Linked DNA regions of Homo sapiens: region 2 is linked to region 1. The links come from fine-mapping of genetic effects on gene expression. A gene starts in region 1. The other region holds a variant in brackets. All regions are shown on one strand. Distances are between the middles of the regions.

What was found. PIP is the estimated chance that this variant, and not a neighbour inherited with it, causes the effect. A credible set is the group of variants that fine-mapping cannot tell apart.
Region 2: its variant is the best candidate, but not a certain one, in a credible set for the expression of LINC02381 in left ventricle (GTEx, PIP 0.63).

The regions. Positions count from the first base shown.
Region 1 is chr12:54,124,547-54,127,454 of GRCh38, reverse strand. LINC02381 (long intergenic non-protein coding RNA 2381) reads right to left here and starts at 1,384. Exons shown (of 2, transcript NR_026656.1): 1 at 843-1,384. It overlaps FAM242C (family with sequence similarity 242 member C), which reads left to right and starts at 1,060. Exons shown (of 3, transcript NR_170197.1): 1 at 1,060-1,128; 2 at 1,642-1,695. RefSeq lists enhancers at 1-376, 377-1,010.
Region 2 is chr12:54,175,855-54,178,762 of GRCh38, reverse strand. It overlaps a transcript of SMUG1 not described here. Among named protein-coding and RNA genes, the nearest start is that of SMUG1, 12 kb to the left of the region's middle. The variant A/G (reference allele first, on the strand shown) is at 1,277.

The sequences.
Region 1 (2,908 bases):
AGGAGAGTAGGGGCCTTTTCCTTGCCCTCCTTTGGGAACTGGAGAAGAGCGGGAGATTGTGCTGGAGGCGGGAGGGGGCACTCGCTTGGCTCCATCTCAAGGAAATGGGTCTCTGACTCAAATTGGATTCAGAAAAAAAAAAAAAAGATTTTTGGGAGTTATTCCCTCTCTCAGATCACTCCTAACTTAGAATCAACGTAAGGGCCCAGGACAGCAGGGGACCGCTCTGGGCGGATCCCCCGCCCCGTCCCGGCAGAGTCGGCAACTCGGGCTGGCATTTCCTTCCCTTTCCGCGGGGCGTGTCTGGGGATCTCCAAGCGTCTCTAAGGGCCTGCTGGGGTGAGCGGGTTTGGGACGCGGCTGGGTTTTTCTAGGCTGGTAATCGGTCCCGACTGGGGAATAAGCACACACATCCTTCCTTCAGTACGGGAAGCGGAGCACCCTCTCTCCCACTTTAGCCCTCGAAACCCCAACTCCGCTCCCTTCTCCATCTCCCCTCAAAAAACTTTTCCGAAGTTCCCCCAAGTTGCGTTTGAGGAAAGAAGTCGTCTCCCTCAGACTCTGGGTTTCTCGGCCCCTAACCCTCCCCTCAATCCTCAGTTTCGGAAGCAACCCTCCCCCTCCCCTGCCAGCTACCACCTTAGTCCCTAAACTCGGGGAGGAAAGCTGCTCTGACCCCATGCATCTGACAGAAGCCCAACCCCAGCCCAAATTTCTCCCGGGGGAAGGCAGATTAATATGTCAGCCTGCAGGGGAAACAGGGGTAAGGGGAGGGAGAGACCGGGACGGGGAGAGACAGATTGTTCTCGGGCTGAATCGCACCCGTCCCGGGCCCAGCTTACCTGCTCCGGACAGGCTCATCTAGATTTCCATCCTGCCAAAAGTTTGTCCTTCTCTCAAACGATTCCGGGAGGAGCGCAAACTCGGCTCTTGGGGAGGGCAGGCGGGCCGGGTACCCTTGAAGGCGCAGGCGCCTGATACAGAGCAGGCCCCGGGGAAGCAGGACTCGGGGGCACGGTCGCCAAAGTGGGGACCCGAGCAGCGATCCGGAGGGAGAGCATTCAGGCGCCCGGGCTGGGGGCTACACTGCTGGCGCGGGATGGCCCAGGACAGAGTGGGCGCTATAGCGTGAGTGGCCATCAGGGCCGGGCGGGCCCGGGGAACTGGAGGGAGAGGTCCCTGGGTCCCTGGCGACGTCTCTCGCTTTCTCCAGTTTCTGCCGTGCTGGTGTGCCCCAGCCCACAACATTCCCTCGACCTCTTCTGGGGCGGCGCTCAGGGCCCCCACATGGCGAAAAGGGAGGGTGAAGGGATGAGGCGCCCCTCCCGCCTTAGCCCCTCCTCAGCCCCCACGCCACAGCCCCCCCTTTCTCCCCAGAGCCGAGGGACAGACAGAGAATTGCGACTAGAATTCGATCGATTGGTACGAGGGACCACGTGGCCAGGGGCTGGCCAATGACCAGGCCGCCCGGGATGAGCTAATAATGGAAGCAATTTGTAACTTTCAGTAGCTCTCTAGGCCTGGGTACCGGAGGGAGGGAGGCGGGCAGAGGAGGGGAGATGGGCACCCCCAGTCTTTCCATCCTCCTCATTCGTCTAGGGGCACCCGAATCCCCTATTCCTTATTTCCCCTATCACTCAGGCACTGGCAGGGTCCTTGGCCCACTCCTGTTGGCCGCCGCGGCTCCAAAGCGAGGTAAGCTGGTCCTCTACCCCTCAAACTCTTCACAACCCTCACCCCGTTTACTAGCACCTGCAAACCACAGCCTCCCTTCCTGTCCCATTCGTGAATTTAAATCGGATTTTGTTTTTCCTCTTAGTTGAAAGAAAAAAAATATGTTTGTATTCTTTTGTGTAACCTATCTTGGATTTGGAGAAAATTTTAATTCAAATTAATACACTTATATTGGGGGGGGTGAGTGGTACTTTCTTCCTTTTCAATAAATTTGTATACTTGCTACTTTATGGAGAGTTTACTTTTCTTTGGGGATGAGTTACACCTTATGTTTTCACATGTGTTACTTCTTTAATGATAAGTTCAACTCCTTTCTCCATTCCATCCTCCAATTTTGCTATTTATAAATATCACCTAATAGATTTAGAGTTTATTCATTTTTCTCCTCCCTCACTAGTTTTTCAGCTGTTACAGAATCACCACAATTTATTTTCCTCTGTGTGTGGATGAGGTTTTGCGTTGATTCCTCTTTTTGTTTTGTAAATGAATTTATTGTTTGGGAAACTCTTGGGGGGTGTGTGTGTGTAAAAAAGGTCTTTTGATTAATTCCAACCTCTCCTCTTCTGAAGAACAATTTGCTTGAAATGTTTTGTGTATTTTCCTCGTTTTTATTTGTTTAAATTTGAGGTATTTTACCTTCTTTAAAACCTGGCCTCTTTTTAAAATTTAACCTTTTGCATGTTAAACCATTTTTAAGGTTTTTATTTTATAAACTTCAATGGTTAGTAGATTTACTTGCCTTTCCCTGACCTCCTTCACGCGCCTGCCTCCTCCATCTCAGAACTCCCATCTCCAGCTTCCACAATTCTCAGCTTCCAACGGACTCATCCTCCCCTCTCCTCCCAGCCAAGGAGGGATGCCTGGGAAGTAGACAGTGTCCTTCTTGGGTCAGAACCTATGCTCTGGTTCTAGTTCAGGACACCTCCAGTCTGACCTCCAAGCCGGCAAAACGAGTGAGAGCAGAATTTCTGTTCAACTTTTTCATTTGGGACTAAGTTCTTTACACTTGGCTGTATTCTGGAGAACTCTGATACATGAAATTGAATTTTAAATTCTCATTTTTTCCCTAAATTCTAAGAAAAGTGCAGGCAGATTGTTTTTCTTCCTTAAATGTAAGCTGAACAGCTTAGGGGTCAGCCCCTTGGGTCTTTTACCTCCTGGGGGAGACTTCTCA
Region 2 (2,908 bases), 51 kb before region 1:
GATTCCTATTGGCTTGGCCCAGTTTGGAGAAAAAGATGAAGAGGTAGATTGAAGCTAGCCTGTGAAGGGTCTTGAATGCTAGAATAATCTTTGAGAATTTAAAGTGTAGTGGGGGAAGTGAGATGCACAGAACACACACACTGAAAATACCCAACAATAGGTGGAAACCCATAGAAGGAGATGAAGGGGCAAACCATGTAGGAGGCAGTGTGGGTGCAGTGGGGAAAGGGATGGGAAGAGAGGGGATGAGTCTATAGGGAGGACATCTAGGGGCATAGCAGGTCTGGTTGAAAGCCTAGAGTTGGGGTCTCTAGGTGATGAGATAGTGGGATAGGATTGGGTAATACACAGAGGCACTTGAACAGTAGTGACCAGAATGACTTGAAGGCCTGGGTATGGCAGAGTCGCTGCTGGGTCTGGGTCCTAGTGGGGCTGTTGCTTTCAATTCCTGGGGTGCATCTTGTCGGAGAGGTTGATTAAGGTCCTGGGCCTGCCTTTCCCTAAGGACACTGTATTACACTGCTAGGGCTGCCATGACAAAACTACCACAGACTGGGTGGATTAAAACAACAGAAATTTCTGACACTTCTGGAGCCCGTTAAGTCCAGGATCAAGATGGTTTGATCTTTCCTGAGGCCTCTCCTTAGCTTGCAGATAGCTGCCTTCTTGCTGTGTCCTCCCATAGCCTTTTCTGAGCATGTACCTCCCTGGTGTTTCTCTTCTTGGAAGGATACCAGTTGTACTGGATTAGGTCCCCCCTTATTACCCAATTTAACCTTAGGTGCCTCTTTAAATGCCCTATATCCAATATAGTCATATTGGGGCTTCAACATACAAATCGGCAGGGGGGCATAATTCAGTCTATAACAGGCACACAAAGTCATGTCACTGCTTTTTTTGTCCCCAACCAATGTCAACCATAAACAAACTAGGGTACTTAGGAGTGCCTTTTTTCCAGTCTGGAGGATTGGAAGCTGGTCTAGGGGCTTAGGTAGCTGATCAGACTTAGTCTCATCAGACTGGCTTTTACCCTTCATTCTAGAGCAGTTTCTTCAGTGCAAATGAGAGTGTCCTTAGGGAAAGGAAAGTCATTGTTTTTTTTTTTTCTCTGAGTGGTAGAGAATGGAGCCTTTAGTTGCTATAAAACAGCATTGTGAGAATTATTCTAAAGCCAAACTGAAATAATTTGGTGTCATCTAGACTTTTGTAGACCAATACAGTAGCCACTAGCCATGTGTGGCTGTTTTAGTTCAAAGTGATTAAGGAAAAAAATTCA[A/G]TTCTTCAGTTCATATTTCAAGTGCTCAATAGCCACACATGGCTAGTGACTACTGATTGGATGACACAGAAATTGAACATTTCCATTATCACAGAAATTTGTGTTAGACAACACTGATCTAGAGATCAGTGGCTTACAACCCTGCCAGTGAATCCGAATTAACCGGTGGAGGTTTAAAAAAACAAGTGTCTCAGCTCCACTTAAGATATTTTGATTTGTGAGGTGCGAGGGGCATCCTGCTATCCGTCTTCAACAGAATCTCTCCATGCTACCAATATGCAGCCAAGGTTCAGGCAGGAGTGTCCTGAGTGTCTTGAAGGCAAAGGCCAGGGTCTCCTTTTTCTTTTCCCAGTATGTAATCCCACACCTGGCACAAAGTAGGTATTCAGAGCAGACATGGAAGTAATGCATGAATCTGGTCTGGGAAAGCTACCCGTGTGCCATCCAGAAACACTAGTTTCTCTAGAGTTTGTTCTTTTTGCCTAGTGATGGTATTTCAAGTTCTGATTCAGAGGAATGATGGAGGTCCCACCCCAAAACACACAAACTCAACTTGGTGGAGACCAAGGGTGTGCTTGGGGTGGGGATGCTTCTGAGCTTCTGAGGGATAGATTGTGTTGGTGAAGAAAGAGAATTTTCTTACCTCTTTTTTTTTTTTTTTTTTTAGTTTTTATTTTTTTGACACGGAGTCTTGCTCTGTCGCCCAGGCTGGAGTGCAGTGGCGCGATCTCGGCTCACTGCAAGCTCCGCTTCCCGGGTTCACGCCATTCTCCTGCCTCAGCCTCCTGAGTAGCTGGGACTACAGGCGCCCGCTACCACGCCCGGCTAATTTTTTTGTATTTTTAGTAGAGACGGGGTTTCACCGTGTTAGCCAGGATGGTCTTAATCTCCTGACCTTGTGATCCGCCCGTCTCGGCCTCCCAAAGTGCTGGGATCACAGGCATGAGCCACCGTGCCCGGCCTTTTTTTTTGGGGGGGGACAGGATCTTCTTCTCTTTCCCAGGCTGGAGTGCAGTGGCATGATCATGGCTCACTGCAGCCTTGACTTCCTGGGCTCAGGTGTCCTCCCACCTCAGCCTCCCGAGTAGCTGGGACTATAGGCATGCACCACCACACCTGGCTAATTTTTTGTAGAGACGGGGTTTCACTATGTTGCCCAGGCTGGTCTCTATCTCCTGAACTCAAGCAATCCTCCCACCTTAGCCTCCTAAAGTGCTGGGATTACAGGCATGAGGCACCATGCCCAGCCTTTTTTTTTTTTAGATGGAGTTTTGCTCTTGTTTCCCAGGTTGGAGTGCAATGGTGTGATCTTGGCTCACCACAACTTCTGCCTCCCGGGTTCAAGCGATTCTCCTGCCTCAGCCTCCTGAGTAGCTGGGATTACAGGCATGTGCCAACATGCCTGGCTAATTTTGTATTTTTAGTAGAGATGGGGTTTTTCCATGTTGGTCAGGCCGGTCTTGAACTCCTGACCTCAGGTGATGTGCCTGCCTTGGCCTCCCAAAGTGCTGGGATTACAGGCGTGAGCCACTGTGCCTGGCCCCGGCCTTTTATCTCTGTCTTTTTTTTTCTCCCTTACTGATACAGGATAGCTTAAAGAAAATTGGGTCTTGAATTTGGCCACTGTGTGGT